Linked DNA regions of Homo sapiens. The protein of the gene in region 2 purifies or fractionates together with the protein of the main gene of each other region. This does not show direct contact. Each region holds a gene or a part of one and is shown on either strand. Other genes may lie near its edges.

The links.
Region 1: the proteins of STK3 (region 2) and VAPA purify together in Homo sapiens (affinity purification with mass spectrometry; 5 studies listed by BioGRID and IntAct, with this or other methods). This does not show direct contact.
Region 3: the proteins of STK3 (region 2) and BTRC purify together in Homo sapiens (affinity purification with mass spectrometry; 4 studies listed by BioGRID and IntAct, with this or other methods). This does not show direct contact.

Annotation. Positions count from the first base shown.
Region 1 is NC_000018.10:9,944,952-9,948,614, reverse strand, and holds part of VAPA (vesicle-associated membrane protein-associated protein A), read right to left. Parts: coding exon of another isoform or gene 3,557-3,663; intron 1-3,556. UniProt on the Homo sapiens protein: Endoplasmic reticulum (ER)-anchored protein that mediates the formation of contact sites between the ER and endosomes via interaction with FFAT motif-containing proteins such as STARD3 or WDR44.
Region 2 is NC_000008.11:98,456,341-98,458,781, forward strand, and holds part of STK3 (serine/threonine-protein kinase 3), read right to left. Parts: intron 954-2,441; coding exon of another isoform or gene 951-953; exon of another isoform or gene 1-950. UniProt on the Homo sapiens protein: Stress-activated, pro-apoptotic kinase which, following caspase-cleavage, enters the nucleus and induces chromatin condensation followed by internucleosomal DNA fragmentation.
Region 3 is NC_000010.11:101,532,120-101,535,782, forward strand, and holds part of BTRC (F-box/WD repeat-containing protein 1A), read left to right. Parts: intron 1-175; coding exon 176-313; intron 314-832; coding exon 833-951; intron 952-2,541; coding exon 2,542-2,791; intron 2,792-3,234; coding exon 3,235-3,353; intron 3,354-3,663. UniProt on the Homo sapiens protein: Substrate recognition component of a SCF (SKP1-CUL1-F-box protein) E3 ubiquitin-protein ligase complex which mediates the ubiquitination and subsequent proteasomal degradation of target proteins. Recognizes and binds to phosphorylated target proteins.

The DNA.
Region 1 (3,663 bases), on a different chromosome or scaffold from region 2:
CCCAGGTGAGAGTGAGACCCTATCTCCAAAAGGGGGAAAAAAAGATATACATGGGGTCAACACCAAAGAGAAAAAAAACTAAAAGAATCATCAAGCTCGACAACTGATTATTTTTAAATTCTTTACATTGCATAAAATTTTAAATTACGGAGGGAAGGGAAAAAGTCATTTCTCACAATCTTGTCAAATCAACAAAACTATTATTTATATTACTATTATTAAATGACATGTCATTAAATATTCTATTCTATGCCTTGCCAAAATTAAACATTTCACTTTTGTTAAGCATTTGATGGGCAGCTTTCCATTCTTTCAAATTTTAAATAACATGTCCATAGGAAGACATTCCATAAAAAGATAACTAGATTGGAATTAGATTTAGATTTTTCTAATTCTAATAGAATTAGACTTGGAATTAGATTAGAATTTATCTAAGCAAATAGAATTAGATTTTTTTGTTGTTGAATTTCTCTTAAAAATGTTATACTGCTTTTGTAACAAAAAGGAGAAGAAATGATAACCAATATGTGGAGCATAAACAGAATAGAATGCAAAGAATACAGTGAAGCCGAAACACATTTCAAAAGTGTGCCCAATAAGTTATATCACATACTACCTAGGCCCCTTACAAACCAGTGAACATACATAACAGGTGCAAGAAAATCTAATTTATTTACATATACATATGCTACATATGTATATGTTATGCTATATATGTATATGTAATGGGGGGAAGTGTGATGGGAGGGTGGGCTTTGAGTCATGCATGGAGTGACAATCTGAAGAGCCTGATGGAAAAAATTAAGCAGGTGTAACTTTAAGTATATGCTTCCATCCAGGACCTCTATTAGTGAGGTTTGGCTCCAATAAAACAGCTTGTTTCTTGAGAGTTGCTTCAAACTGGTCCAGAAAGAAAAGACTGGTTGTTCTGAGAACCATGAAACAAGCACACCAGAGAGATTCAACATGCTGTGACTCTTAGTAAATTGATGAATGGTAACCTTACATTTAACACTGCAATTCAGAATAAGCTGGAAGGTCAAGGTGTGTATCAACTAAAACAATAAACCAATCTTGTCCAGTTTCCACTATATTATTTAGCCTATCTGCAGTAATCCTCCATCTGAGTTGTCCAGTCATGTTCTGTATAATGATGTTTTGGTCAACAATGATTCATACATATGATAGTGTTCCCATACAATAATAATGGCACTGAAAAATTCCTATTACCTAGTGAGGTCTTATCACAATACATTATTCACGTTTGTGGTGATGCTGGTGTAAATATACATACTGTACTCCAGTCATATAAAAGTATTGCACATATGATTTATGTACAATACAGAATACTTGGTAATAAATGACTATGTTACAGGTTTATGTATTTACTGTTATGCTTTTTATCATTTATTTTAGAGTGTACTCCTTCTACTTACGAAAACAAAAAGGACACTCTAAGTCAGACTCCAGCAGGTCCTTCAGGAGGTATTCCAGAAGACACTGTTAACATAGGAGATGTCAGCTCCATGAGTGTTACTGTCCCTGAAGACATTACAGTGAGACAGGATGTGGAGGTGGAAGGCAGTGATACTGATGATCCCGCCCCTGTGCAGGCCTAGACTAATGTGTGTGCTATGTCTTAGTCTTAAGAAAAGAAGTTTTTTTAAAAATCTTATTTAAAAAATAGAAAAAGGCAGCGAATAAGGACATTAAAAAGATATTTTTATTTATCTATACACTGTGCTTGTGCTTTATGTCAAAAATTTTAATTTTACAGTTTATGAAGTTACGGACAGCTAAGATTAAAGAAAAAAATTTTAATAAATGTAGCCTAAGTGTACAGTGTTTATAAAGTCTACAGTGTACAGTAATGTCCTAGGCCTTCCCATTCACTCACCACTCATTCACTGACCCACCCAAAACAACTTCCAGTTCTGCAAGATCCATTCACAGTAAGTGCCCTATGCAAGTATACAATTTTATCTCTTATGCCATATTTTTGCTGCGCCTTTTCTGTGTATAGTCACGGGTGTCCAATCTTCTGGCTTCCCTGGGCCTCACTGGAAGAAAAATTGTCTTGGGCCACACATAAAATACACTAACACTAACACTAACTAATGAGCTATTAAAAAAAAAAAATCACACAAAAAAAAACTCATAGTGTTTTAAGAAAGTTTACGAATTTGAGGTGGGCCGGATTCAAAGCCATCATGGGCCACGTGTGGGCCGCAGGCTGCAGGTTGAATAAGCTCAGTGTAGATTGTTTCGATACACAAATACTTACCATTGTAGTACAGCCACAGGCTATACAAGTCTGTAGCCTAGGAGCAAAAGGCAATACCATATATAGGTTTTTGTAAGTACACTCTATGATGTTTATACAACACATCACCTAACAACACATTTCTCAATATATATCCCCATCCTTAACAGATGCATGACTGTACTTCTGTATTCTTTTTTAACCATCAGAATTTCAGTTCTAATATCCCAAGTATTTTTACTGGGGGTTAATTAGAAAAAGAGGGAACTAGGAATTGGAAATACAAGAAAAAGTTTGCAAAGAAGCCTTGGGAAGAACAAAGGAGATAAAAGACATAAACGTGGGCCTACATTCTTACAACTAACAGGAGTGATGGATAAAAACGCACATAAAGGGAGTTAAAAGGCTAAAGTCAAGAGTACTGTCATAAACCGAGAGAGGCAAAATTAAGGTCTTAACCTATGAATTAAGAGACAGGATTTAAGTAACAAAGTTACCTGAAGTTTTTTTTTCCCACTCTAAACAGCCAATTTACTGTTTCTTTAGGATCATGACTCCCAGAAGTAAATAATTCCCAATCACAAAAACAAAAAATTATTAAACATTTAGATAATTTTTTAAAGCCTTAGTATGCATATCATCTGCAAAACCAAATCAAAGTATAAACAATCTGTTAAAACTGTGGGGTTGCCACATGTGGTGGCTCACGCCTATAATCCCAGGACTTTGGGAGGCCAAGGCAGGTGGATCACCTGAGGTCGGAGTTTAATGAGACCAGCCTGGCCAACATGGTGAAACCCCATCTCTACCAAAAAAATACAAAAATTAGCCAGGCATGGTGGCACGTGCCTGTACTCCCAGCTACTCAGGAGGCTGAGGTGGGAGAATCCCTTGAACCGGGGAGGCAGAGGTTGCAGTGAGCTGAAATTGTGCCATGCACTCCAGCCTGGGTGACAGAGCGAGACTCCATCTCAAAAAAAAAAAAAAAAAAAAAAAAAAAAGAGTATATTCCCCAAATCTCAAAGAAAAAAATTACAGCAACTTCATAATGTTCACACTTATACTGTCCTGCTCACTATATAGATTTTAGTTAAGTTCAGAAGTTTTTTAGAACAGAATAGTTTGTATGCATGATTTTTAAGTGCTTTGTAGTTTTATTGTAATTTTAGGCATAGTTCAATTCTATCTACTTCATACAACATACTCACAATACCACTTATCTGCTAGGTATCTACATTAACTTAACCATTGACACTAGTAGACTCCTAAGTCTGTTAACTCCCTATAACAAACCTTCTGTTTCTCCTGTTTCAACACACTGAGTCCCCTGGGGTCATCCTTCGTGTGATAACTGGCAGGTGTTGCAACTGTGTTGTTGATGCTGCTCATTGAAGTGACAG
Region 2 (2,441 bases):
AGGTATATTCACTCTAACTTTTTACATCTTTGCCAGCTACTGAGTGCTACAATAATCATGAACACTTGCAGAGATCACTCAAGAATGTGACAAGACTGAATAAAGGTTAAATTAACCATTCTATCCTCCATTTTACTAAATGCTTAATAAAGAAGATGACTGTGGTAGGGGGCGGGAAGTAAGGCTGAATAGGCCTGGTGGGGCCCCAAAAGCAGGAAGCCATGATCAATTCTGGAGTAGGACAGTTATGTAAGAGTAATCCAGATTTGGTTTTCTTTTCTTCTTCTTCTTCTTCTTATTTTTTTTGACACAAGGTCTCAAACTTCTGGGCTCAAGAGATCCTCCTGCCTTGACCTCCTCAGTAGCTGGGATGTGCCACTGCACCCAGCTCAGGCTTGGTTTTAAAATGATAAAACTTGCAACTTACTTTTTGTTTTAAGAAGATAATTGCCTTTGGTTATTTTATGAGTCAAGCTAGGAAAAATACTCATTACTTATAGTCATCCAAAGTAGCATTTCTCAGCAGATCCTTTTACTCGCCATCCCTGGCCCTATCGTGACTTCTGCTTCCAAAAACCAAATTCACTCTTAGCTGAAAAAGACTCTGAGGATACTGAAAAGAATGAGTCATAGACTCTCTGAAGGAAATTCAAAAAAGGAGTTCCAAAAATATTTTGAGAAATGACAGTGTTATGGAGAAGAGTATGCAGGCTTCCATGATGATGACTTTGAAGGTGAATGCCACTCACTTCGGTGCATAAGAAGTTCTGGTATGTATATTAATAATCAGCCCTGTTATTTTGTAGTCATATGTCATGAAAGAACCTAGCTTTTAATATTATGCCATAAAACATACATTTATATATCATATGTAGTATTATACACTTTCTTCATTGATTTTTAATCCAAGTAGTGATCTTGCATCTGTTACATGCTCAGTGCTGTTCAAATCACTGTGGAGATACAGAATAAGACAAACAGGGAAACTCCAAACTTTGAACTGTACACATCGGTAATGGCCACATTGAAAGGCCAATGTATACCACACAACCACATTTCCCAAGAAAGACATGCCCAACTATGTCTATGTAGGATCCAGTTCCACTTCTGTGTTCTTCAACATCATCTCTATTTCAGCCCATGTTAATCTTTCCCATTTCTAAATTTCTATGTAACACTCATAATTTAAACAACACAATTTAGTATTTGATTCTAAATCATGTACTATTTTATAATTGATTTTTATGCATGAGTTTCATGTCCCTAGATATTCCAAAAAATACTTAGACTTTAGAGACTGTACATACACCAAGAAACTATCCTACTATACTGCAAATAACATGACGTAAACGTAGATAGATAAATATGAATAAGAATATATGACCCAAAGGAGTGGGTTACTCTAAGATCAGAAGAACTAACATATTATATAAAGCAAACAATTATCATTACTTTAATTCTGAATTAAGATATTCCTGTAAATATCTTGTACTACTTTTACTGGGGCAAACTGCCAATAGGTTTATAAATATTGTATTGCAGTAATAGACTGAACTCAGAAAAAGAAGCTACTTAGAAGAAAAATTTTCTTCCTTTAACAGATTTTTATATTATCAATGCGTAAAATTTGTGAAAAACAGGTCTGTGATATTAGAGAAACATTATCTAACATTATTAAGGAATTAGGTGTTCATGTAAGTAAATTAATGAAGTACCTAAATCTTAGTTCTTTAAGTGATAAAACTTTGTCTCAATATCACATACACACACATATACACACACACACACACACACATGTGCACACACACATGTATTTACATATGCTCTTTTTTGGTTCTATGTGACTTTTAGGATTTTTTTCTAATTTTGTGAAAAATGATGTTGGTATTTTGATAGGAAATGCACTGAATCTGTAGACTGCTTTGGGCAGTAAGGTCTTTTTCATAATATTGATTCTTCCAATCCATGAGCATGGGATGTATTTCCATTTGTGTCATGCATGATTTCTTTCAACAGTGTTTTGTAGTTCTCCCTGTAGGGATCTTTTACCTTCTTGGCTAAGTATATTCCTAGGTAATTTATTGCTATTACTATTATTATTATTAATTATTTTACAGCTATTGTAAAAGGGGTTGAGTTCTTGATTTGATTCTCAGCTTGGTCACTGTTGGTATATAATAGTGCTACTGATTTGTACCACTGATTTTGTAACCTAAGACTTTACTGATATGGTTTGGCTGTGTCCCCACCCAAATCTCATCATGAATTGTAATCCTCATAATCCCCATGTGTCTAGGGAGACACCTGGTGGGAGGTGATTGGATCATGGGGGCAGTTTCCCTCCATGCTGTTCTAGTGATAGTGAGTGAGTTCTCACAATATCTGATGGTTTTATAAGGGGCCCTTCCTTCTTCAATCTCACTCTGCTCTCCCCTCTCACC
Region 3 (3,663 bases), on a different chromosome or scaffold from region 2:
GGAAGAATATTTTATAAATATAGATAGTAGCCTTTTAAAGACATTTTTTAGTTTTCCCTAAGTTGTGTATATCCCATAGAGTAAAGCATTGAGCCATTGATTGTCATTAAAGCCTAAAAAGAGTTTGATTCTAGGTGTTTCCTAACACTGCCTCTTTCCCATTCCTTCTTCTCAGACAATAGAATCTAATTGGAGATGTGGAAGACATAGTTTACAGAGAATTCACTGCCGAAGTGAAACAAGCAAAGGAGTTTACTGTTTACAGTATGATGATCAGAAAATAGTAAGCGGCCTTCGAGACAACACAATCAAGGTGAGGTCTATTCAGTTGTAGAAAGGTAGCAGAGGGAGCAAGAGTGACCACATTCATAGCGCAGTCTAAAGCATAAACTCTAAGCATTATTTCTAGAAAGTAAGTGAAGATTTTAGATTGTTTCCAGTCCCAAAGCCAAAATCATTTCCTTAAAGGACAGACATCAGCTTCCCCACTATACAAACGGGTAGTCCTAGGGTTAAATTCTCTTCTTGAAATGCACTGAATGGGCTGTTACTCTTTTGGCCATCACATAATTATAGACTACCCTGTTCCTTAATGAAAAGGATAAAAGTTTGCATTAGTACTGAAGCTATATGTGTGTGTGTGTGTGTGTGTGTGTGTGTGTGTGTGTGTGCGCGTGTGCGCGCGCGCGCGCTTAGCTATACCTATAGAAAATGCATTCCACACTACTCTGGGCTTTGATTATTTTGGGGGATCAGACACGTAATAGGACCAACAAGTCTCCACAGCACCCCATCATCACATTGATCAAAAGGATCTTATTTGCCATCCTAGATCTGGGATAAAAACACATTGGAATGCAAGCGAATTCTCACAGGCCATACAGGTTCAGTCCTCTGTCTCCAGTATGATGAGAGAGTGATCATAACAGGATCATCGGATTCCACGGTCAGGTAGAAAATTTCAAATGCTTTTTTGAACTCTGAAATATCAGCTCTGCTCTGTTCTTTGTCATAGATAGTAATTTTGTATATATCGGCACAGTTCTGAAACTAAAGAAGAATAAACCACCAGGTCCCCATCATTTCTGTCAGTCTAGAACTAGAAAACTTGATTTAGAAATGCTTGAGGTAAGTTTACATTTTCGCACATTGAAGAAACTACACATTCTATTTTAATTTGGAGGATCATCTATTACAGAAACTTTTCTTATCCTTATGGTAAACTTTGCATTCCTTACAAAAACCACCTCACGGGGGAATGATATGAATGCAATGAAGCCTTCCTTTCAGGTAGTGGTAACTGTAGTGCAGGTCTGTATTATCTCCTTTGAAACATGTACAGGTGAGCTGTGCTCTCTTTGCCAGCCCCTCCCCTGCCATCCCTGCAGTTTTTAATTGCAAGCTTCACTCAGGTAGGGGCCCTCAATTTCCAGAGGCATTAGTGATTTGATGACACAGCCATTATACTGCTGGAGTCCAGGATAGCTTGAGTTCTGGGTACCAGCAGCACTGCTGGGAACCTCTGTTAGGAATTTTGCCGTAAGCTAAAGGATTTAGCAAACATAATGCATCAAAAGTAACTTTAAAAAAAAAATAGACCTAGGAAAAAAGCGGTTAAGTGCATTGTTAGATACTCTGAAGTTAAATGTTTACCATTCCAAGTTATCCTCTGTGAATAGAAAAGACGGTTCCTGTTTTTTGTCTTTTGACTTAAAGGCATAGCAAGGCATAGCAAACTTGGCCCTTGTAGTTACTGACATTTAACATTTATTGGTGCTTGTGGAGTGAGTGCCCCACAGAATCTAAAACACTGCAGGTGCTAACATCATTTATAAGATAAAGAAAAAATGATATTCTATAAAAGGGGGCTAAACTGGAAAAAAGGAAATAACATGTTATAAAACCTTAAGTAAATACACAAAAATAGAATAATCAAAATATATAATCACACAAAATTCTCAAGCTATCCAAGGGCCCCACACTCTGCTGTGAAGCCCATATTTACAATGGGGGGTCTATTTTAAACCCCTACCCACTTCAGAACACAGAAATGGGGGCTTAGAATTAGAGTCATGGTTATCTTGGCCTTTGACCTTTATGATAAAACCTGAGATCCAGGGTAATCAAACTCAAATTCACATTACTAAGTATGTGACAGAAGCATCTTGGCCTATTTCATTTCTGGCTCCTGAGGGCTATCATTGGAATGGGCACTAATGCTATTGTTATTAATCAGATTCCTCATTTAAAATGTATCTTACTAATGGTATCAAATTGAATGTGAGAAGTTTTACAGTCTTCAAGTCTGGGCCAAATTATTAGGTGACAGTGGCTGCCACTTCATCCTTGCCCTCCACAACTTGCCCATATTTCAAGCAGTATGTCTTAAGGACACACTGGCAGCATCCCATCCCCTTCCTTCTCCCACTCTCCCAGTCTGGCCCTCTCTCTAAATATAAGGGGTGGAAGGGCGCATGATGGTCAAATATAGGTAACAGATTGTAGCTTGAGTACCATCTAAATCTCATCTATCACTTCCAGAGTGTGGGATGTAAATACAGGTGAAATGCTAAACACGTTGATTCACCATTGTGAAGCAGTTCTGCACTTGCGTTTCAATAATGGCATGATGGTGACCTGCTCCAAAGATCGTTCCATTGCTGTATGGGATATGGCCTCCCCAACTGACATTACCCTCCGGAGGGTGCTGGTCGGACACCGAGCTGCTGTCAATGTTGTAGACTTTGATGACAAGTACATTGTTTCTGCATCTGGGGATAGAACTATAAAGGTAATAAGGCATTTTTCAGTAAGTTTCCAACTTAGAATGGGGGAATTCATATGAAAATTTGATCAAGGGCAATTTCATATTTAAACGTTGCTACAGAAAAATGTAATATTTAATTCAGAGACTAGTCTACAAGTGAAAAGGTGTAATAAGTGAGACGTTGTGTGACAATTTATCCTAGATATTTTATTCCTATAAATAGTGGTGAGTGTGAGAAGAGACTAACCCTAGAAGAGTAAATCAATCTGAGGAATTCTCATGTGGTAACAGCCAACTGCAAATTAGCCTCTGTTACCATGAATTTAAATTGTCCTTTGTTTTATTTGTTTGAGAAGACTTCCCTCTAATGGTTCAGTCCTGTTTTCTGCTTCTCTAAGACTCCATTTGCCATAGATTTTACCAATAAAAGCACCAAATCAACTGCTCAATGCCATTTTCTTTTTCAGGTATGGAACACAAGTACTTGTGAATTTGTAAGGACCTTAAATGGACACAAACGAGGCATTGCCTGTTTGCAGTACAGGGACAGGCTGGTAGTGAGTGGCTCATCTGACAACACTATCAGGTGAGCAGCAAGTGCCTTGTATCATAAGGGATCAATATTATGCTCCCATTCATTATTAATGCACAGATCATACAAGTCTTCAATTTTGTTATGTTTATAATCAACTGTTTTTCCTTTCTGTAGCTTCTTACAGGTCAGAAGTTTGCCCCAGGCAGAGAAGCAGCACAGCAAAGCCTTTTGTTGCCCTTCTTTTTAAATTTCTCCTGTCTACCGTTGAAAAGTGCTAATAAACAGCTAACAGCCTTTTCTTTGCCATTGTTTTTAAGAAATGAAAAGAAAGATTTGTTTCCTTACTAGAAATTATGTAATT